7 linked regions of the Homo sapiens genome follow. The protein of the gene in region 3 interacts with the protein of the main gene of each other region in a pairwise test. Each region holds a gene or a part of one and is shown on either strand. Other genes may lie near its edges.

The links.
Region 1: the proteins of YTHDF1 (region 3) and LASP1 interact in binary tests that used the Homo sapiens proteins (3 or more experiments, as listed by UniProt).
Region 2: the proteins of YTHDF1 (region 3) and ERI3 interact in a two-hybrid assay, tested with the Homo sapiens proteins (one large-scale study listed by BioGRID).
Region 4: the proteins of YTHDF1 (region 3) and KRTAP13-1 interact in a two-hybrid assay, tested with the Homo sapiens proteins (one large-scale study listed by BioGRID).
Region 5: the proteins of YTHDF1 (region 3) and KRTAP26-1 interact in binary tests that used the Homo sapiens proteins (3 or more experiments, as listed by UniProt).
Region 6: the proteins of YTHDF1 (region 3) and BICD2 interact in a two-hybrid assay, tested with the Homo sapiens proteins (one large-scale study listed by BioGRID).
Region 7: the proteins of YTHDF1 (region 3) and C6orf15 interact in binary tests that used the Homo sapiens proteins (3 or more experiments, as listed by UniProt).

Annotation. Positions count from the first base shown.
Region 1 is NC_000017.11:38,918,558-38,922,057, forward strand, and holds the end of LASP1 (LIM and SH3 domain protein 1), read left to right. Parts: intron 1-47; coding exon 48-221; 3' UTR 222-3,213; downstream 3,214-3,500. UniProt on the Homo sapiens protein: Plays an important role in the regulation of dynamic actin-based, cytoskeletal activities.
Region 2 is NC_000001.11:44,338,258-44,341,757, reverse strand, and holds part of ERI3 (ERI1 exoribonuclease 3), read left to right. Parts: intron 1-2,435; coding exon 2,436-2,713; intron 2,714-3,500.
Region 3 is NC_000020.11:63,199,132-63,202,631, reverse strand, and holds part of YTHDF1 (YTH domain-containing family protein 1), read left to right. Parts: coding exon 1-345; intron 346-3,500.
Region 4 is NC_000021.9:30,394,844-30,397,322, forward strand, and holds KRTAP13-1 (keratin-associated protein 13-1), read left to right. Parts: upstream 1-1,187; 5' UTR 1,188-1,243; coding exon 1,244-1,762; 3' UTR 1,763-1,979; downstream 1,980-2,479. UniProt on the Homo sapiens protein: In the hair cortex, hair keratin intermediate filaments are embedded in an interfilamentous matrix, consisting of hair keratin-associated proteins (KRTAP), which are essential for the formation of a rigid and resistant hair shaft through their extensive disulfide bond cross-linking with abundant cysteine residues of hair keratins.
Region 5 is NC_000021.9:30,318,624-30,321,452, reverse strand, and holds KRTAP26-1 (keratin-associated protein 26-1), read left to right. Parts: upstream 1-1,137; 5' UTR 1,138-1,417; coding exon 1,418-2,050; 3' UTR 2,051-2,329; downstream 2,330-2,829. UniProt on the Homo sapiens protein: In the hair cortex, hair keratin intermediate filaments are embedded in an interfilamentous matrix, consisting of hair keratin-associated proteins (KRTAP), which are essential for the formation of a rigid and resistant hair shaft through their extensive disulfide bond cross-linking with abundant cysteine residues of hair keratins.
Region 6 is NC_000009.12:92,754,834-92,758,333, forward strand, and holds part of BICD2 (protein bicaudal D homolog 2), read right to left. Parts: intron 1-3,500. UniProt on the Homo sapiens protein: Acts as an adapter protein linking the dynein motor complex to various cargos and converts dynein from a non-processive to a highly processive motor in the presence of dynactin.
Region 7 is NC_000006.12:31,110,723-31,113,983, reverse strand, and holds C6orf15 (uncharacterized protein C6orf15 precursor), read left to right. Parts: upstream 1-1,408; 5' UTR 1,409-1,428; coding exon 1,429-1,495; intron 1,496-1,692; coding exon 1,693-2,603; 3' UTR 2,604-2,761; downstream 2,762-3,261.

The sequences.
Region 1 (3,500 bases), on a different chromosome or scaffold from region 3:
GGTGAGCCGGCATGCAGGGCCCTAGGCTGACCACACTTCCCCCACAGAAGCGGTACCGCGCGGTGTATGACTACAGCGCCGCCGACGAGGACGAGGTCTCCTTCCAGGACGGGGACACCATCGTCAACGTGCAGCAGATCGACGACGGCTGGATGTACGGGACGGTGGAGCGCACCGGCGACACGGGGATGCTGCCGGCCAACTACGTGGAGGCCATCTGAACCCGCAGCGCCCCCATCTGTCTTCAGCACATTCCACGGCATCGCATCCGTCCTGGGCGTGACCCGTCCATTCTTCAGTGTCTCTGTTTTTTAAAACCTGCGACAGCTTGTGATTCCTACCCCTCTTCCAGCTTCTTTTGCCAACTGAAGCCTTCTTCTGCCACTTCTGCGGGCTCCCTCCTCTGGCAGGCTTCCCCCTTGATCGACTTCTTGGTTTTCTCTCTGGATGGAACGGGCATGGGCCTCTCTGGGGGAGGCAGGGCTGGAATGGGAGACCTGTTGGCCTGTGGGCCTCACCTGCCCCTCTGTTCTCTCCCCTCACATCCTCCTGCCCAGCTCCTCACATACCCACACATTCCAGGGCTGGGGTGAGCCTGACTGCCAGGACCCCAGGTCAGGGGCTCCCTACATTCCCCAGAGTGGGATCCACTTCTTGGTTCCTGGGATGGCGATGGGGACTCTGCCGCTGTGTAGGGACCAGTGGGATGGGCTCTACCTCTCTTTCTCAAAGAGGGGGCTCTGCCCACCTGGGGTCTCTCTCCCTACCTCCCTCCTCAGGGGCAACAACAGGAGAATGGGGTTCCTGCTGTGGGGCGAATTCATCCCCTCCCCGCGCGTTCCTTCGCACACTGTGATTTTGCCCTCCTGCCCACGCAGACCTGCAGCGGGCAAAGAGCTCCCGAGGAAGCACAGCTTGGGTCAGGTTCTTGCCTTTCTTAATTTTAGGGACAGCTACCGGAAGGAGGGGAACAAGGAGTTCTCTTCCGCAGCCCCTTTCCCCACGCCCACCCCCAGTCTCCAGGGACCCTTGCCTGCCTCCTAGGCTGGAAGCCATGGTCCCGAAGTGTAGGGCAAGGGTGCCTCAGGACCTTTTGGTCTTCAGCCTCCCTCAGCCCCCAGGATCTGGGTTAGGTGGCCGCTCCTCCCTGCTCCTCATGGGAAGATGTCTCAGAGCCTTCCATGACCTCCCCTCCCCAGCCCAATGCCAAGTGGACTTGGAGCTGCACAAAGTCAGCAGGGACCACTAAATCTCCAAGACCTGGTGTGCGGAGGCAGGAGCATGTATGTCTGCAGGTGTCTGACACGCAAGTGTGTGAGTGTGAGTGTGAGAGATGGGGCGGGGGTGTGTCTGTAGGTGTCTCTGGGCCTGTGTGTGGGTGGGGTTATGTGAGGGTATGAAGAGCTGTCTTCCCCTGAGAGTTTCCTCAGAACCCACAGTGAGAGGGGAGGGCTCCTGGGGCAGAGAAGTTCCTTAGGTTTTCTTTGGAATGAAATTCCTCCTTCCCCCCATCTCTGAGTGGAGGAAGCCCACCAATCTGCCCTTTGCAGTGTGCAGGGTGGAAGGTAAGAGGTTGGTGTGGAGTTGGGGCTGCCATAGGGTCTGCAGCCTGCTGGGGCTAAGCGGTGGAGGAAGGCTCTGTCACTCCAGGCATATGTTTCCCCATCTCTGTCTGGGGCTACAGAATAGGGTGGCAGAAGTGTCACCCTGTGGGTGTCTCCCTCGGGGGCTCTTCCCCTAGACCTCCCCCTCACTTACATAAAGCTCCCTTGAAGCAAGAAAGAGGGTCCCAGGGCTGCAAAACTGGAAGCACAGCCTCGGGGATGGGGAGGGAAAGACGGTGCTATATCCAGTTCCTGCTCTCTGCTCATGGGTGGCTGTGACAACCCTGGCCTCACTTGATTCATCTCTGGTTTTCTTGCCACCCTCTGGGAGTCCCCATCCCATTTTCATCCTGAGCCCAACCAGGCCCTGCCATTGGCCTCTTGTCCCTTGGCACACTTGTACCCACAGGTGAGGGGCAGGACCTGAAGGTATTGGCCTGTTCAACAATCAGTCATCATGGGTGTTTTTGTCAACTGCTTGTTAATTGATTTGGGGATGTTTGCCCCGAATGAGAGGTTGAGGAAAAGACTGTGGGTGGGGAGGCCCTGCCTGACCCATCCCTTTTCCTTTCTGGCCCCAGCCTAGGTGGAGGCAAGTGGAATATCTTATATTGGGCGATTTGGGGGCTCGGGGAGGCAGAGAATCTCTTGGGAGTCTTGGGTGGCGCTGGTGCATTCTGTTTCCTCTTGATCTCAAAGCACAATGTGGATTTGGGGACCAAAGGTCAGGGACACATCCCCTTAGAGGACCTGAGTTTGGGAGAGTGGTGAGTGGAAGGGAGGAGCAGCAAGAAGCAGCCTGTTTTCACTCAGCTTAATTCTCCTTCCCAGATAAGGCAAGCCAGTCATGGAATCTTGCTGCAGGCCCTCCCTCTACTCTTCCTGTCCTAAAAATAGGGGCCGTTTTCTTACACACCCCCAGAGAGAGGAGGGACTGTCACACTGGTGCTGAGTGACCGGGGGCTGCTGGGCGTCTGTTCTTTACCAAAACCATCCATCCCTAGAAGAGCACAGAGCCCTGAGGGGCTGGGCTGGGCTGGGCTGAGCCCCTGGTCTTCTCTACAGTTCACAGAGGTCTTTCAGCTCATTTAATCCCAGGAAAGAGGCATCAAAGCTAGAATGTGAATATAACTTTTGTGGACCAATACTAAGAATAACAAGAAGCCCAGTGGTGAGGAAAGTGCGTTCTCCCAGCACTGCCTCCTGTTTTCTCCCTCTCATGTCCCTCCAGGGAAAATGACTTTATTGCTTAATTTCTGCCTTTCCCCCCTCACACATGCACTTTTGGGCCTTTTTTTATAGCTGGAAAAAACAAAATACCACCCTACAAACCTGTATTTAAAAAGAAACAGAAATGACCACGTGAAATTTGCCTCTGTCCAAACATTTCATCCGTGTGTATGTGTATGTGTGTGAGTGTGTGAAGCCGCCAGTTCATCTTTTTATATGGGGTTGTTGTCTCATTTTGGTCTGTTTTGGTCCCCTCCCTCGTGGGCTTGTGCTCGGGATCAAACCTTTCTGGCCTGTTATGATTCTGAACATTTGACTTGAACCACAAGTGAATCTTTCTCCTGGTGACTCAAATAAAAGTATAATTTTTACCTGCGGACTTGGTTTCCTCTCTGGCTCTGAGCTGCTGTTGTGTGTGTCTGTGTGTGGGTGTGTGTCTCTAGCTGTAAGGTGCTGCTGTGTGTGTGTGTGTCTAGCTGTAAGGTGCCACTGTGTGTGTGTGTGTGTGTGTGTCCTGTCTGCTTGGGGGCACTGGCCTGTGGCCCTCCTGGGACCTCTGCTGCCCCTCGGGGAGAGAATGACTTGTCTGGATGCCAAGGGGGAGTTTGCTGCTGTCTGTCAGGCCCTTGGCCCCTACTTCCTCCTTGCTGAGAACTCCCCACCAAC
Region 2 (3,500 bases), on a different chromosome or scaffold from region 3:
GCACCCCGCCTGGCTAATTTTTAATTTATTTTTTGTAGAGATTGGGTCTCACTATGTTTCCCAGGCTGGTTTCGAACTCCTGGGCTCAAGCAATACTTCTGCCTCAGCCTCCCACAGTGCTGGGATTACAGGTGCAGTCACTGTGCTTGGCCAAAAGAAGCTTTTTGATGTAGATGAAATCAGGTGAGAAAGCAAGGCCTGCAGGCAAGAGGACCACTGGCCATCAGAATAGGGTATATATAGTATGCTCTGTCAGAGGTCTGGAGCATTTTAGGGTTGCAGAAGACATCGATATTACTCTCTGAGGCTGCCTTATGAATTAATTGGATTTGTAGGCCCAGAATCTGGGGATCCAGGCTTGGCCAGGTGGGCATAGCCCAATAGGATAGTAGTAATAACATTAGGATAATATATATTAGGCTGTTATATGCCAGGCACTGGTCTTAGTGCTTTACATGTGTTGTCTCATTTTGTTCTCACTTAAGGAGTAGGTGCTATTGTTATTGTCATTTTACAGATGAGGAATTGAAGAACACAGCATGCCCAAGGTGCCATGGGTAGTAAGTGGTAAAGCTAGGATTCAAACTTGGAAGCCCTCCTTACTCATCATGCTTAATTGCTTATAGTATTTGGTAGACAGGATTGACTGACTGTATATACTACGCATATTCTGTGCACACTGTAGAACATTAGGACTTTCAGAAGTCTTTACACTTTTTTATGGGGTTAGAGAAGAGTCTAAGTCCTTGAGGGACTTTGGATCCAAACTAGAATGGGTAATTTGAGCAGACTGGTGTCTTCCATCTCATTAAGGCTTCCAGTACTATTCAGGAATAGGCGATGAGAAGATTCTGGCTTTCAAAGGGATATTGGCCCTCTTGCCCTTCCAGGAGACTCCATATTGAAACTCAAGCCAGCGTTTGTCTACCTGGGCTGAGTTTTGGCTGTATTTTTGGTGAGGCTATAAAGCAGTGGTGAAAACAAGTGCTGTGCTTGTGCAGGATCCATGAAGAACTTAAAATATTTTTTGGTCTTAGCTCCACTGAATCCCCCTGAAATCTCATTATAGGGATAGGGAAATTGAGGACCTACACTAGCGTATATCCTACTATATATATAGGCAAGTTACTGTAGCTCATTCAGTGAGTCAGGAGAGAGATGGGAAGACAGCCATACTTGGCATTATCTGCTTCTGTTCAGGTGGTAGTGGCCTCATTGCCTTTGAGTACGCGCTGGACTTCACAGGGTGCTATCCCTCTACCCTATGTGAAGGGAGCCAGGTGCCCACTTGCAGCCATCAGAGGCAAGCCTTTGGTTGTGTTGGAATGAGGCTTCGGAAAGCACAAACTATGGCCATTACTGTATTGTACAGTGAGATTTCTTATTTGAGGATTAAAGTTGAGAGAAATTTGAATGTTGAGTATTAAAGGGAGAAAGACAACATTTCTGCTTTGTTCCTTTTTTCTTTTTAAGGAAGTTTGAGTTATTCGTGAGTAAAACTTAGGCTTTGATTTTTGTATTTAGTTAGGCCTCTGAGGAGCAGGCATTCTGCAAATTTAAGGGGAAAACTTAAAGGAAAAGTGATTTGATTTTTTTTTTTTTTTTTTTGCACATGTTCACTCAGAAAACTTTACTAGACTTTTAGCCATGTTCCTATTACTGCCACATCTGGGTTTTCTTTTTCTTCCCTATTTAAAAAGTCCCGCAGTCATTCAGGGCCTCGAGTAGAGACCGAGTCTAAGGCAGCAAATGAGAAGGCCTAAGGCTGCAGCCAGCTGTGCTCTCCAGGCACTGTTCATTCCCCCAGGGTGCCACTTACTAGTGTGGGGGTTGGGGGATCACCAGAATGTCAGAGCAAACCCCTGTGATTCGCTTTGTTTGCCTTCACCTTGGGAGAGGGGAGGAGGGTATGTGGAGACATCAAGATACAGACTGGAAAGCCAGGGGCAAATGGCTCCTAGTGGAGCTGAGAAAAGAACCTTGGACATTTTCTGCTGCTTGTCTGAGTCTACTTAGCTTCCAGGACTCATTGTACAACAGGGTCACCTCACGTTACTTTGGACCCATAGCTTTAATGTTAACTGTTGCCACCTGAGAAGTGACTGCACAATTTTTCTCTCTTCTCTCTTTTGAACTTTAGAGCTCCATTTAAAGATGCAGGCCAGTGTTGCATGTTGTTTTGAGAATGATCTGGGAGACTCAGAGCTGTAATAATGCTGCAGGTGCTGCTATTAGGGTCTTGAACTTTAGTAACGAATACTATGATTTAGAAAAGGGGCCCAGAAACACTGGGGAGTGGCCCATGTTGCGTGGATATTCCTGAAGACTAGATGGAACAGGGCCACAGTGGGAGGGAGTAACCCAGGCTCTCTGTTCTTTTTTTTTTTTTCTTTCTTTTCTTTTTTTTTTTTTTTTTTAAACTTTCCTCCCCTAAGTTTTAGATGCTTCTGGATGTTCAATGCTAGCACCTTTACAGACTGGAGCAGCTCGATTTTCTTCGTATTTACTTTCAAGAGCAAGAAAAGTGCTGGGCTCCCACTTATTTTCTCCCTGTGGTGTTCCGGAGTTCTGCTCCATATCCACCAGAAAGCTGGCGGCCCACGGCTTTGGCGCATCCATGGCGGCAATGGTGTCCTTCCCTCCCCAGAGGTATCACTACTTTTTAGTGCTGGACTTTGAGGCCACGTGCGACAAGCCACAGATTCATCCTCAGGTAACTGTTCCATCATTGCTTTAGAAAAGGTGGGGGGGGCAAGGAGGGAGGGAGGATAGTTTTGCTTCCTGGGACACAAAGGAGCTTTCTCATGCCTTCCTGTCTTTTAGCTACTCATTTAGAGTTCCTGTCTAGGAAGCAGGACTTGTTTCAGGTATGCTAGTGTAAGGTAGACCTGAGAAGTCTCTGGAGAGAACTGGGTACATTGTTTCTCTCTAGTCTCAGCTTTTGGGAATCAAAATATTTCCTTCTCCCGTCCTTCCTTTCTCTGTTCTCTTCTTTCCTCCATTCTCCTGCTACTGCCACTTGTTCCTTTAAGGAGTGCTATAGTAGCTGGCCTCCAAGATGACCTCAATGATTCTTAACTCCTGCTATTCACACCCTTGGTAGTTCCCCTCCTGCACTGAATCAAAGATATTCCTGTATAGCTAATAGAATACAGTGGAAGAGATAATGTACGACTTCTGAGGGTAAGTTATAAAAAGTATTGCAGTCCACTTTGCTCTTTTGGACCACTTGCTCTGGGGGAAGCCAGCTGTCATGCTGCCAGGACACTCAAGCAGCCCTGTGGAGAGGCACATGTGTGTAGGAACTGAGGCTCTTAGCCAAAATCCAGTGCCCAACTTGCCAGTCATGAGAATGAGCTATCTTAGAAGTGAATCTACCAGCCCCGGTCAGGCCTTCAGATGACTGCAGCCCCGGTGGACATGTGACTTCAACCTTAGGAGGGACTTTGAGCCAGACCAGCCAGCTAAGCCACTCTCAAATTCCTGACTCACAGGAACTG
Region 3 (3,500 bases):
CTCTTCAGCGTCAATGGGAGTGGGCATTTTTGTGGGGTGGCCGAGATGAAGTCCCCCGTGGACTACGGCACCAGTGCCGGGGTCTGGTCTCAGGACAAGTGGAAGGGGAAGTTTGATGTCCAGTGGATTTTTGTTAAGGATGTACCCAATAACCAGCTCCGGCACATCAGGCTGGAGAATAACGACAACAAACCGGTCACAAACTCCCGGGACACCCAGGAGGTGCCCTTAGAAAAAGCCAAGCAAGTGCTGAAAATTATCAGTTCCTACAAGCACACAACCTCCATCTTCGACGACTTTGCTCACTACGAGAAGCGCCAGGAGGAGGAGGAGGTGGTGCGCAAGGTGAGGCTGGGTGTTGCAGGCAACTGCCATGCAGATGTGTCCTTGGTGCCGTACTTAGACCAGGTGGCCCGGTGGTGAGCAGATGCGGCAGGTCCGCCGAGCTGAGTCTCGTGACAGGCAGCTCCCAGTTGGCCGCAGGTGGGCGGGCCCAGGTCCTGGCAGCCTCGTGGGCTTTCCCTGCGGAGAGTACTGCTAGTAACCAGTGATGGTATTTGGGTAGATGTCACCGAACGACTTTGATCACTTTCCAATTATAATTGAATAATTGGGACCACAGTGTACACATTCTGTTTTTCTGTTACAAAGAATTTGAGGGTAACTTTCTCCTCTCCTTTTTGAATTGTGATACTTTCTGGAACAGTGCTTCCCAGCCTCCGTCCATGAGGAACACTTAGGTGATATTCACGAAGCACTGCGGTGGGCACGTAGGGCATCGAGACCCCACCTGGCCAAGGGCCCTTGCTTCCCAGGGCACTGTCCCTCAGTAGTTGGGAATCTCTGGTCTTTGATCTGGAGGTCGTTGCTTTATTTTTCTTTTAAAAACCCAGTATCCTGCAGTTTTTGGAAACAAACTCACTCCATCTAGGTCGTAAAGAAAATGGTGGTGGTGGGGTAGGTTTGGAATCCAGACATTTTATAATGACAAATATGGATCCTATATCAAAAATTCATTGACTGGGCCTTTTTGAGACAGTCCTGATTTCCTGGGATACTTGTAGCCAAACTCCTGAGTCTGTGCTGTCATGTGATGTCTGACGGGATTGAGTGTGTTTGCTCTTCAGAAGGGCTCAGATGCCCGTAAACTGGCACCAGCAATGGGAAAATGATGATGCTGACATACTTCATAATGCTTCCTTTATTCGAGAGAGTTCATCCTGAGATTCTCTCCTGCTTTTTAAAAAATATCCCTTCCTGAAATGTCAGTTGATAATAGATGGGTTTTCAGTGTTTTTTTCAGTTCTCTATGTTAAAGGAATTATTCACCTGTGAGCACCAAGTGTCCTAATGTATTTTGGGCAGAAAGGCGTGTACATGGCATATATAGGGATGTATAGAGTAGAGCCGCCTGCACTGTCTGCAGTCTTACATTATGCAAGTCCTGAACAACTTGGGGCTTGTAGAACTTTGGAAAAGTATCAGTCCCTCTCTTTTGTGAGAAAAGAAGTGGATGTCATTTATTTCCAGTTACTGAATTCTGAATTAGTTACTGAAATTCTGTGTTTTAGGTCTTTTTTTTTTTTTTAAATGGAGTTTTGCTCTGTTGCCCAGGCTGGAGTGCAGTGGCGCAATCTCGGCTCACTGCAACCTCCACCTCCTGGGTTCGAGTGATTGTCCTGCCTTAGCCTTCCAGGTAGCTGGGATTACAGACAATAGCTCGGATTACAGACTTTTAGGTATAAAATGAATACTGAATTGCTAAAGTTGCAGGGATAATTGCTAATGAAGCTTTAGGTCCTTAGCTGGCTAAACTGGAAGCTGGCTGTGTGTGTGTGCGCGCACAGTTTTTCTTCTTAAATACCGTAATACTTGGGTTTTCATAAAGTGTGCGGACTCCTGACCTGGTTGGTGTTTTTAAAACTCTAGTGTCCTACAACTTGCATTATAAAAACTTGATCTAGATAACTGCTTTTGTGTGTCGGGTTATGGGTTAAGCATCTTGGTAAGCGGCCTGCAGGGTCTGTGGGCATCTGCCTGCAGGCAAGATCCAAGTGTTCCTCAAACCACTGGGTGCTCCAAGGCGAGTCCAACAGAGCCGCTGGTGGAGCATCATTGGAAGGAACTTGGTAACCCTCCCCTAAACTGTTAGCCAAGCTGGAGAACTCTGGGCCCATATGGGTCAGTGTTAACATTAATTCATTTTATTGAAAGTGACAAATGAGAACCTGGTTTGTTAATGTTTGGTGGAATTTCAAATAGCTTTTTTTTTTTTGAGCCAATCTCACCGTCAGCCAGGCTGGAGTGCAGTAGTGCAATTTTGGCTCACTGCAACCTCAACCTCCGAGGTTCAGGCCATTTTCCTGCCTCAGCCTCCCAAGTAGCTGGGATCATAGGCGCCCACCACTGCACCCAGCTAAATTTTGTATTTTTAGTAGAGATAGGGTTTCACCATGTTGGCCAGGCTGGTCTCGATCTCTTGACCTCAAGTGATCTGCCCACCTCAGCCTCCCAAAGTGCTGGGATTACAGGTGTGAGCCACCGTGCCCCGCCTCAAATAGCTTTTTGTTTTTGTTTTTGAGACAGGTCTTTCTCCGTCTGCCGGGCTGGAGTGCAGTGACTTAATCACAGCTTGTTGTAGCCTTGACCTCCTGGGCTCAAGCGGTCTTCCTGCCTCAGCCTCCTGAGTAGCTACAGGCGTGCACCACCACGCCTGGCTAATTTTTGTATTTTTTTGTAGAATCAGTGTCTTGCTATGTTGCCCAGGCTGGTCTTGAACTCCTGGGCTCAAACAGTCTTCCCACCTTGGCTTCACAAAGTGCTGGGATTATAGGAATGAGCCACTGTGCCCGGCGTCAAATATCTTTTAAGCTTATTGGGCAGTGTAGAGAAATGGAAGTGGTCCTTGAGGAGGTCCCCAGACTGGACTTCGCTGCTGGCTCTCCCTGCCTGCGAAGGTGCTCTAGGCCTTGTGCTTAACGGGCTGGGCTAGTGGCTCATCCAGGATTGGAGTCTTAGGTGTCTTGAGGCTGAGACTCTGGGTGTCTAATGCTTTCTCCCTCTGGGTTTCCCATGAAGAGTCAGTGCAGTTTTGTTTTGTTTTTTTTTTTTTTAAGACAGAATCTTGCACTGTTGCCCAGTCTGGAGTGTAGTGGTGTGATCTCGGCTCACTGCAAGCTCTGCCTCCTGGGTTCACACAATTCTCCTGCCTCAGCCTCCCGGGTAGCTGGGACTACAGGCCCTTGCCACCACGCCCAGCGAATTTTTTGTGCTTTTAGTAGAGATGGGGTTTCACCGTGTTAGCCAGGATGGTCTCGATCTCCTGACCTCGTGATCCGCCCGCTTTGGCCTCCCAAAGTGCTGGGATTACAGGCGTGAGCCACTGCGCCCGGCCGAGTCAGTGCAGTTTTAAGAACAAAGTAGTGTGCCGAGGAGAGGGTTGTGCGCCTGTGCTGGTAGAGCCCCCGGGCGGTTTTCTCAAGGTTCTCTCAGGACTTCGA
Region 4 (2,479 bases), on a different chromosome or scaffold from region 3:
TTTGTTCTACAGAAAATCATGTGGACAAAACCATTGTCATGTGTAGAGATGATCAAAGACCGACTATGCAACCAAAAAATGTAGAAAAAGATTATAGATGAGGATGATGATAAAGGTATATTATTGTCTTGATTTTGTGACATCTTGGGTTTTGTTAACTATGGAAGTTTTTATTCTAAGTTAATATCCATGTTTATATCTATTATTATATTCCTAATATTGTGTTTTTAATGAGGATCTCCAAATTATACTTTTCAACACCACAAAACCTAAATCCACCTCTTTAAAGAGGGCTGGGACAGAGTCACGAAAAACATAGAAGCTGGTGTTACCCCGCAAATGCTCAGAAGGCAGTCAACATTTTGAGGTGGGGGTTTAGAGGTGTTGTAGACAGGTAGGCTCCAGAACACTTACAAATATGAATGCATCATACAAAAGTCATCAAATAAGTTTATTTGAAAGCATTTTGATTTGCTTTTAGGATGGAGTCCTGAGCATCCTTCTGCTATTGTGACTACTCTGACTTGTTTCCTACCTCATCTCAGCAGTGTCTTCTACTTTCCTTTTTTTCACATGGGTCCTTATTGTTGTATTTGTATTTATTTATTTTTTGCTTTTGTTTTGATTTCTTTTTTCTAAATACTAATTTTTTAAAAAAATTTGTTCAAGATGATATCTATGTCTAGTTATCTCTCAATTCCTTTGGCTTACTTTTATATAGGCCCTCGAGACTGGACTTACAAGCACTGATTATAGTAAATAACAGATGGCAAACTATTTTGGAGAGTGTGAACAATAAGATTTCTGCCTCTAGGCCACTGACAAAAAAAGATGAATACATTGCTATCCCCACCCAAGACAGAAAGAATTTCCCAGCCAAAACAGGAGCAGATGTATAAATCATGGGCAGAGAAAATAAGAGGGGTTTTCCTGGACATAATGGAGTAGGGACTAATCACATACTGTCATAGCATTTGTAACATAAATGCATTTCATTGACGCAGAGCTGTAAAAACAAAAGGAGTTCTTCCATAAATATAAGATGAAGGGTGTTAGTTAACTGCAATGACAAAGAAGATTACTAAGTTGCTTATATGAAATGTGGGAGCTTAAATGTGTGAAGGATGACCCTGTAAGGTGCCACACCCACGGCTGAACGTATATAAATGGTCCTGTCCAGATGTGGCATGCAAACTCAGAATCTTCTCAGTGTAACTCAGCTGAACTCACATCTCCCATCAACATGTCCTACAACTGCTGCTCTGGAAACTTCTCCTCCCGCTCCTGTGGTGGCTACCTGCACTACCCAGCCTCCTCCTGTGGCTTTTCCTACCCCAGCAACCAGGTCTACAGCACTGACCTCTGCTCTCCCAGCACGTGCCAGCTGGGTTCCTCTCTCTATAGGGGCTGTCAGCAGACCTGCTGGGAGCCCACCAGCTGCCAGACATCCTATGTGGAGTCCAGCCCCTGCCAGACCTCCTGCTACCGTCCCAGAACCTCCTTGCTCTGCAGTCCCTGCCAGACAACTTACTCTGGGTCTCTAGGCTTTGGATCCAGCAGCTGCCGCTCCCTGGGCTATGGATCGAGGAGCTGCTACTCAGTGGGCTGTGGGTCCAGTGGCTTCAGATCCCTGGGTTATGGAGGCTGTGGCTTCCCTTCCCTGGGCTATGGCGTTGGATTCTGCCGCCCAACCTACTTGGCTTCTAGGAGCTGCCAGTCTTCTTGCTACAGACCAACTTGTGGATCAGGCTTCTACTATTGATCATCTTGTTAAATTGCTGATTTTGTTGGCTAATGCCTTCAATGCCTCTACTCATAACCTTTATTGTCTTCATCATGTACAGAAAGAATTAGCCTCTTATTCTATAATTATCAAGTTCTCAGTTTGTCTTTGTCCCCAAATACTGGCTGGCAGGCTTCATCTGAAAAACTGTAATTGGAGAACTAGCTCAAAATAAATCTTGAAATACACATTAAAAGTAGAATTTATATTATTCGATTTTCTTCCACAATTGTATAAAAAGTCAAATCATTTTAATCCAATAAATCCATTGGTCTCATATTCAGCTATGTTTGTGGTGGTTTTATATTGCTAGGGTTTTGGTTGTGATGTATTAGGCAATTATTATGAAACAATTGGTGTATATATATAGGAATAGGTTTCAAAATCATATGAAGTTTGCGATTCAGACAAACTTTTGGGGGCCTCAGAGATTTTTGTTATTCAAACTACAGGTAGTGGAAGTCTACTAAATTTACAGACTTTTATTCATTAAAATATCAGAATCAGGAATTAGCTTGATCCCCTTATAAAATGTGGATTCTTGTGTCTATGCCAACAAGCATAAGGTAGCAAACTAGTTGATAGTTATATCAGGAATCTGCAGAGAAAAAAATACTATTTAGAACAATATGGTTATAGATATACATAAAAGAAAAATGGAATTGAAGAGAAACAAAAGTGATTTGAAGTAACTTT
Region 5 (2,829 bases), on a different chromosome or scaffold from region 3:
GTTAGTACAGGACCTCCGGGATTATACCATTTTATTTTTATATTTCTCCCCCAGTAGTAAAATAGTCTAGTGTTGTCTCATTGAGAAACCAACTTTCTGTTTCAGAGATTTCACTCCTCCAGGACAGAGGGAGACTGGATAAGCACAAGTATGTCCCTCAAACACCAAAATAGAAGAAAGTGTTATGATTTAAATTGACTAGCCAAAAGGAATTGGAACTTAGAGCCAGCAGATAATTTAAAATCCCATTAAAATAGCTACTGGAGCCACTGGGTATGTCAGTATGAGAAAAATATAGAGGGATAGTTGAAACTAACTAAAATCATACATTTTTTAAAACAATTTTACCAGAAATACATATTCTCAAATGACCTTTAAAGTACTAAAACTTAGGAAAACAATAATTTATCCTGATGCTTTTCCCTATGTAAAGCAGTTTAGAAGCTCCTTTTTGGAAATTGACATCAAGGCCAATGTAGAAAGCAAAATAAATTCATGTCATAATCAGTGTATTTTTTAACCAAGAACAATATTTTTTCAGTTGGAATATGAGAAACCATGCAATACATAACCTTGAAATAATCATGAAAAATGTCAAGATGCCTGACTTTCTTTAAGAGGTCTACTTCTCTGCTTTTGTTCACAGTAGGATACATAATTTTAACTTGGCCCAACTTCATTATCTATATTCAAGAATATCTTAAACATAAGCCAAGGTTTCAGCTTCACTCAGCTTATTTATTTATTGAAATGACTAAAATGAGCACATATTTTTGAATAAAGATATTTTGGTAGAAAGTCAAGTCTGAATAGAATTCTGAAATAAAGCAAATCACAACTTAGAAAAATAAATTCTAACCAAGCAAAACATATTGAAATTGTCCATATTTCTGTCATATAGTTTGCAAGGATTTTCATTTTCTCTTATACTTGTTCCAAGTTACTCACTTCTGGCAATTTCCAAGAAGAATAGAATTTTTCTTCAAAAAGATGTAAGTTCTCACTGTTTCAAAGAAGTTGCTACAACTTTCAAAGACAATTCTAAGAGAGGAATCTTAAGAATGTTTGTGCAATGGTGGTTATAATTGGAATAAGCACATAGGCTTTAAAATGTGTCTGTTTTGTTTGGATAATTTAAGAAGGATAGATCCTATTAAAACTCAGTCGCATTGGTTTATAGATAGACGTAATCAATGGATGGCATTGCAAGGAGCATCCAGTTTTATGGAGGGTGGAAGCCTCACTTCCTTGGCTATAATAAAGAGTTCTGATGCATCTTCATACAACAAGAGGAAGAGTCTGCACGCAGAAGCACCACCTTCTAGGGATAAATAAAGGGTCAAGCTAAGGAAGGGCAGAACAAACTTCAGACACTCACTTCTTTGCCTCAACTTCAGCCTGCTCTCACAACCTCACTATGTCTTGCCCCAACTACTGCTCGGGAAACTCCAACTCAGGATCTCTCAGAACCTCCCGCCATATTCCTCTCACCTCCATCGACCTCTGCCCTACCAGCGTGAGCTGTGGAGATGTCCTCTACTTACCCACTAGCTCTCAAGACCATACCTGGGTCACAGACAACTGCCAAGAGACCTGCGGTGAACCAACCAGCTGCCAGCCGGTCCACTGTGAGACCGGCAATCTTGAAACCTCTTGCGGTTCTTCCACTGCTTACTACGTGCCCAGGCCTTGCCAAGGAAGCAGTTTTCTTCCTGCTTCTTTCTTCTCCAGTTCCTGCCTTCCAGTATCCTGTAGACCACAGAGGTATGTGTCCAGCGGCTGTCGTCCACTGAGGCCGCTGCTCAATAGTTACCAGCCCATAGGAGACTGTGTGCCCAATGCCTATCGCCCCCAATTCTGCTTGTCCAAGAGTTGCCAGCCCCAAAACCTCCTCACTTCTGGATGCCAACCCTCGAGTTGCTTGGCCTATCGTCCTCAAAGTCTTCACGTTGTGTCCAGCAGCCTCAGACCTCTGGGGCCTCTGTTCAGTGGTTGCCAACCTCTGACCCATGTGTTCAGCACGTGTCGTCCATCTTGCTCTGGACTGTGAAACCAGCAGCTTCTTTGTTCCAGTGAATAATCACTCTGAGCATCCACAACAAAAATTCAAACTCCATGGACTTTTGCTTCTTTGCTAGTAGCAACTGATGTTTCTTAGTTTTACTGTGCCTGATCTAATGCAAGCTGCTTCTCTCGCATGTTTTATCTTGTTTTCATCTTTCCTTGACATCAAAAAAATTAGTTTACAATGCTATTCAATGTTGCTCTGGTCTGGGAAGAATGTATTTGTTTTGCACTATAATAAATGCGATTAAGTCCAAATTAAGAATCTGGTTCAGCGCTTTGTGTTTCATGACTTAATTTCAACACAGAAATAACCAACGTCAATTGCTTGCAAGATGACTGAGCTGGACAAGTGATACTCAACCATATATTCTTACCTGACAGTAGAGGGATTGTTTGATGGTTTATTCCTTAAGCTGCTTTTTAGACTTCTGACCCTATGTACTTGAGAGACCCAAAAAGTCCTTGGGAAAGCTGTTTTGAAAAGGAAAAATTAGGAGTGATGTCTCTTATCTCTCTACCCCATGAACACACTTCCACCAGAATGTTCTTTCTAATTGCAAACCTAACCAAGTTTCTGCTTACGCCTTTGATGGCTTCCTATAATCTATTCCCATAAGATAAATATTCAAACCTCTTAGCATGACACCTAGTTCCCTCACTGTCTTTCTCCCCCATACCTCTCTGGCTTCATGCTCTTTTGCTCAATATTGCAAATAATAAAACTAAGCTCCTGCGATCCTGACTTACACATGGGTCCCCAAA
Region 6 (3,500 bases), on a different chromosome or scaffold from region 3:
GGATGTATGTCACCTCAGGACCCTGTAATAATTGCATTAACTGCACAAATTGTACAGCATGTGTGTTTGAGCAATATGAAATGTGGGCACCTTGAAAAAAAGAACAGGATAACAGCAATTGTTCAGGGAACAAGAGAGATAACCTTAAACTCTGACCACTGGTGAGCCGGGCAGAACAGAGCCATATTTCTCTTCTTTCAAAAGCAAATGGGAGAAATATCACTGAATTCTTTTTCTCAGCATGGAACGTCCCTGAGAAAGAGAATGCACACCTAGGGGTAGGTCTCTGAACTGGCCCCCCTGGGGCATACCTGTCTCTTATGGTCGAGATTGCAGAGGTGAGATAGACTCCAGTTTCCCATAGCGCTCCCAGGCTTATTAGGAAGAGGAAATTCCCGCCTAATAAATTTTGGTCAGACCAGTTGATCTCAAAACCCTGTCTCCTGATAAGATGTTATCAATAACAATGGTGCCCGAAACTTCATTAGCAATTTTAATTTCGCCTCGGTCCTGTGGTCCTGTGATCTTGCCCTGCCTCCACTTGCCTCATGATATTCTATTACCTTGTAAAGTACTTGATGTCTGTGACCCACACCTATTCGCACACTCCCTCCCCTTTTGAAACTCCCTAATAAAAACTTGCTGGTTTTTGCGGCTTGTGGGGCATCACGGAACCTACCGACATGTGATGTCTCCCCCGGATGCCCAGCTTTAAAATTTCTCTCTTTTGTACTCTGTCCCTTTATTTCTCAAGCTGGCCGACACTTAAGGAAAATGAAAAGAACTTACGTGAATATCGGGGCATGTTCCCCGATAATTATCTTAGGTCACATTTTAGGACACCCAAGGAATCCCCTAGGCTTATGGACATGCTTGTCATCAACCAGCCCTTACACCCCAGCATGTTGTGAGGGTGGTACTGAGGGAACATGGGTGTGAGGAAGAAGGGCAGAGCAAAGCAGATGGGGAGCCCAGGCAGCAGGCAACACATGCCTGCAAAGCAGCTGCGTCCTGGGCCTGAGCCCGCCATGATGCTGTCACTAGAGGGAGAAATTGATCCACCTCCAAGGGCGTCAGGAATGCACTGGCCTAAAACAAGGAAACTGAGGCCCAGAGAGGGGAGAGACTGGCTCCAGGTCACAGAAGTCAAGCCAAGAATGGCTGAGTCCACTGCCATGCTAGTAAGAGTATGAGTGGTCCTCACTATGACCTCAGCACCCTCAATGGTAGGACAGTGACAATACTAGTTCCTCCCTTCTGGTTTAGAAGGGCTTGGCATCTACACCCACTAGATGACAACATCACCTCAGGTGGGCAGAGCTCCACAGTAAAGGCTGGGGCGACAGATGAACCAGAATAGGTGATGACAATGCAGCAATGCAAGAGCCAAGCCATGATGCATCAGCTGAAGGAGGCACCCTGGCTACTTTTTTTTTTTTTTTGTCTGAGACGGAGTCTCGCTCTGTTGCCCAGGCTGGAGTGCAGTGGCACGATCTCGGCTCACTGCAAGCTCCGCCTCCCGGGTTCATGCCATTCTCCTGCCTCAGCCTCCCAAGTAGCTGGGACTACAGGTGCCTGCCACCAAGCCCGGCTAATTTTTTGTATTTTTAGTAGAGACGGGGTTTCACCGTGTTAGCCAGGATGGTCTCGATCTGCTGACCTCGTGATCCGCCTGCCTCAGCCTCCCAAAGTGCTGGGATTACAGGCGTGAGCCACTGCGCCCGGCCCCTGGCTAATATTTTAAAAAAGAAAAGAGAGGCCAGGCACAGTGGCTCACGCCTGTAATCCCAGCACTTTGGGAGGCCGAGGCAGGCAGATCATGAGGTCAGGAGTTCAAGACCTGCCTAACAGGATGAAACCCTGTCTCTACTAAAAATACAAAAGTTAGCCAGACGTGGTGGTGCACGCCTGTAATCCCAGCTACTCAGGAGGCTCAGGCAGGAGAATCGCTTGAACCCGGGAGGCAGAGGTTGCAGTGAGCAGACATCGCGCCACTGCACTACAGCCTGGGCAACAGAGTGAGACTCCGTCTCAAAAAAAAAAAAAGGAAATAAAAGAGAAAGACAAGAGTAAGGTGTCTGGCAGGGGCAGATAAAGTGGGAATCTCCGCCTACCGGCACCCTCCACAGCATAAAAATAGAGTAGCCAGGGCTAATGCCAGTGCAGTATGAAAGGGGACAGGACAGGCCACACATGGCGCTGTCTTTAAAATGACAAGGTCTGTAATCCTAGCACCTTGCTGGGCCGAGGCAGACTGATTGCCTGAACTCAGGAATTCAAGACCAGCCCGGGCAACATGGTGAAACCCCGCCTCTACTAAAATACAAAAAATTAGCCAGGTGTGGCAGTGTGCACCTATGGTCCCAGCTACTTTGGAGGCTGAGGTAGGAGAGTTGCTTGAACACAGGAGGCAGAGATTGCAGTGAGCCAAGATCACGCCACTGCACTCCAGCCTGGGCGACAGAACGAGACTGTCTCCAAAAAAAAAAAAAAAAAAAAAAAAAAATTGAGAAGGCCTTCAACCAAATGCAACCTGCAGATCCTGCTTGGCTTCTGAAGAAACAAAGTAACTGTAAAATGAAATTTATGAGCCAAACTGGGGAAATCCAAACACTGACTGGACAACAGATGACACTAAAGAATTTTTGTTAGTTTCTTAGGTGTGAAAGTTCAACAATGGTTAAGTTTTGTAAGAAAAGATTCTATTTTCTATTAGCTGGGCATGGTGGCAGGCGCCTATAGTCCCAGCTACTGCGGGGGGGCGGGGGGGAGCTGAGGCAGGAGAATGGTGTGAACCCAGGAGGCGGAGCTTGCAGTAAGCCGAGATCGCGCCATTGTACTCCAGCCTGGGTGACAGAGTGAGACTCCATCTCAAAAAAAAAAAGAAAAGATTCTATTTTCTTAGCAAAACAACTGATATACTTACAGACACAGCTACACAGGATGAACTGCGGTAGAAACAAGACCGGCCACAGCTGCAAACTGCAGGTGCAGGGCAGGAGCATACATGGACTCACTCTATTACTCTCTCCACCTTTGATTATGTGGAAACATCCAACAAAGAAGGTGGCTTTAAAAAATGAGTAAAGGCTGGGCGCGGTGGCTCACGCCTGTAATCCCAGCACTTTGGGAGGCTGAGGCGAGTGGATCATCTGAGGTCAACAGTTTGAGACCAGTCTGACCAACATGGTGAAACCTCATCTCTACTAAAAATACAAAAATTAGCCGGGCGTGGTGGTGGGCTCCTGTAATCCCAGCTACTCGGGAGGCTGAGGCAGGAGAATTGCTTGAACCTGGAAGGCAGAGTTTGCAGTGAGTCGAGATCGTGCCACTGCACTCCACGCTGGGCAACAGAGCTAGACTCTGTCTCAAATAATAATAATAATAATAATAATAATATGAATAAATAAATAAATAAGTAAATAATGAGTAAAGCAGCCAGGCGCAGTGGCTCACGCCTGTAATCCCAGCACTTTGGGAGGCTGAGGCAGGCAGATCAC
Region 7 (3,261 bases), on a different chromosome or scaffold from region 3:
CACTGCCAGTTCTGGAGAGGAGCTCTTCACTCCTCCAGTGGTTAAGCCAGCAGGGGCAGGTGGGGAGGACACAGCAGTAGAATCAGCCAACAGCTCATGTTTAGACCTTGGGCAGCCAGGGAAGCCTACTCCTGGGGCCTCCCGGAAGCCATGGAGAGAACAAAGCCATTGCATTTTTATAATAAAATTTGCAAACATATTTAAAAGCCAACAAACTGTTAATGAATCTCTACATTCTCATCGCCCAGCTTCAACAAGGATCAAGTCCTGGCCATTTGACAGCAGCATTTAAAGGCTCTCCTCTACTGTTACTTGGAAATAGCCACTTTCTCCCAAGGTTTCTTATACTCTATGGCACATCTGACCACCAGTAGCAGGCAGAATGATGTCTTCAACCCCAACACCATCAAAGATGTCCACATCCTAATCCCTGGAACGTAGGAATTAGGTTACATGGCAAAGGGAAATTAAGGTTCCAGATGGGATTAAGGTTGCTATTCGGCTGACTTCACAGAGATTATCATGGATTATTCAGGTGGGTCCAGTGTAGTCACCAGGTCCCTTAATGTGGACATGGGAGGCAGAAGAGGAAGTCTGAGTGATACAGTGTAAGAAATGGCTGATTTTGGCTTTGGAGATGGAGGAAGGGGACCATGAGCCAAAGAACACAGGATGCCTCTAGAAGGTGAAAAAGCAGGGAAAGGGATTTTCCCCTGAGGCCCCCAGAAAGAATCACAGCCCTGCTGACACCTTTATTTTAATCCACTGAGACCTGTTTTAGACTTCTGATCTCCAAAACTGTAAAGTAATAAATCCATGTTGTTGTAAGCCATTCGGTTCATGGTAATTTGTCACTGCAGCAGCAGGAATTAGTCAGTATCTCATAAGGATGGCATCCAGGTCCATTTCCCTAGCTAGATCCAGGGTCTCATGTAGGAGCAGCTCCTCAGATGGGGCCACTTCTGCACCCCAGAACCTCCTGCAGGTTGGGGCCAAGGTGAAGGAGATATGAGGATGCATGAGAAAGGGGTGCTGGGAGGAAACAATCCAGCTCCCAAAAAGAAACAAGTGTTTCTGTTGCTGAGAGAGGCAATTAAGAGAGTGGGACCCCAGGGTGGAGGTCCTTGTGTATAGAGAAGCAGGGCTGGGGAGGCTGGCAACCAGGGATGAGCTGTGAGCCAGGACACCTGGGCCAAGAAGGGGCAGGGAGGTCAAGGAAAGGAGCCAGGGCGGGAGACACCCAGCTTCCTCTGGGACATTCATTCAAGTGACACCTGTTGCCACAGACCACATTAGGAATGAGGGTGGAATGTGGAGGTTTATTGTCTTCACAACCACTAGCCCAGCCTGTTTCTGCTGTCCCCCACCCCACTACCAGGATAAAGGGCTGGCTGTCTTGGGGCTGAGGGAGATCGGGTGCTGAGCAGGATGCAGGGCCGCGTGGCAGGGAGCTGCGCTCCTCTGGGCCTGCTCCTGGTCTGTCTTCATCTCCCAGGTATGGAGGCCGTGATGCCCTTGGGCAGGAGGGACTGGAGGTCCCCCAGGAAACAGGAATTAAGGAAAGGGGTAAAGGCAGGAGGGTACACATTTAGGTCCCTGAGGGAAAAGGAAGAATAGGCATAGGGGAAGCAAAGGGAACTGGGGACTCGGGGACTGGAGACCACTGGTTGCTTTATCTTCCCTTTCCCTCAGGCCTCTTTGCCCGGAGCATCGGTGTTGTGGAGGAGAAAGTTTCCCAAAACTTGGGGACCAACTTGCCTCAGCTCGGACAACCTTCCTCCACTGGCCCCTCTAACTCTGAACATCCGCAGCCCGCTCTGGACCCTAGGTCTAATGACTTGGCAAGGGTTCCTCTGAAGCTCAGCGTGCCTGCATCAGATGGCTTCCCACCTGCAGGAGGTTCTGCAGTGCAGAGGTGGCCTCCATCGTGGGGGCTGCCTGCCATGGATTCCTGGCCCCCTGAGGATCCTTGGCAGATGATGGCTGCTGCGGCTGAGGACCGCCTGGGGGAAGCGCTGCCTGAAGAACTCTCTTACCTCTCCAGTGCTGCGGCCCTCGCTCCGGGCAGTGGCCCTTTGCCTGGGGAGTCTTCTCCCGATGCCACAGGCCTCTCACCCAAGGCTTCACTCCTCCACCAGGACTCGGAGTCCAGACGACTGCCCCGTTCTAATTCACTGGGAGCCGGGGGAAAAATCCTTTCCCAACGCCCTCCCTGGTCTCTCATCCACAGGGTTCTGCCTGATCACCCCTGGGGTACCCTGAATCCCAGTGTGTCCTGGGGAGGTGGAGGCCCTGGGACTGGTTGGGGAACGAGGCCCATGCCACACCCTGAGGGAATCTGGGGTATCAATAATCAACCCCCAGGTACCAGCTGGGGAAATATTAATCGGTATCCAGGAGGCAGCTGGGGAAATATTAATCGGTATCCAGGAGGCAGCTGGGGGAATATTAATCGGTATCCAGGAGGCAGCTGGGGGAATATTCATCTATACCCAGGTATCAATAACCCATTTCCTCCTGGAGTCCTCCGCCCTCCTGGCTCTTCTTGGAACATCCCAGCTGGCTTCCCTAATCCTCCAAGCCCTAGGTTGCAGTGGGGCTAGAGCACGATAGAGGGAAACCCAACATTGGGAGTTAGAGTCCTGCTCCCGCCCCTTGCTGTGTGGGCTCAATCCAGGCCCTGTCAGCATGTTTCCAGCACTATCCCCACTTTTCAGTGCCTCCCCTGCTCATCTCCAATAAAATAAAAGCACTTATGGAATTTGCTTCTCCTTGGTTTCTTTGTTTCTGGGCATAAGCTGAAGTGAGTCTGGGCATAAGCTGAAGTGAGTCTGTTCATTCCTGTTTTCTAGCCATCCCCACGGCCCTCTAGGGGCCCCTGCAGACGCTGTCTTGCTATCCCCATCCTTCACAAAGGATCAGTGCCCAAGTGCTTGAGGGTGGAGCCTCAGTCTCACCCCGGCCAGGTGGGAGAGCTGTTCCAGAATTGTGCTGGAATCTGAAAGGGGGAGGAGGGACAGCAGGACTAATTGAGATGGCACCTGCAGCAGGGGGCAAGGATGAGGTCCCAGAAGGCGGCTCCAGGGCCAGGTGGACAGGATTCCTTGCAACTCACAGAAACAGGAAGCCAAAAGTCGCAATGTCTACGCTTCACTTGTCTTTTCTTCCCCGGAAAGTCAAGCTTCTTGGAAGTGGAGGTACATCGACCTCCTCCCTTACAGGCATCATTTAGCACATTGTGTCCCACAGAACCACAGACTT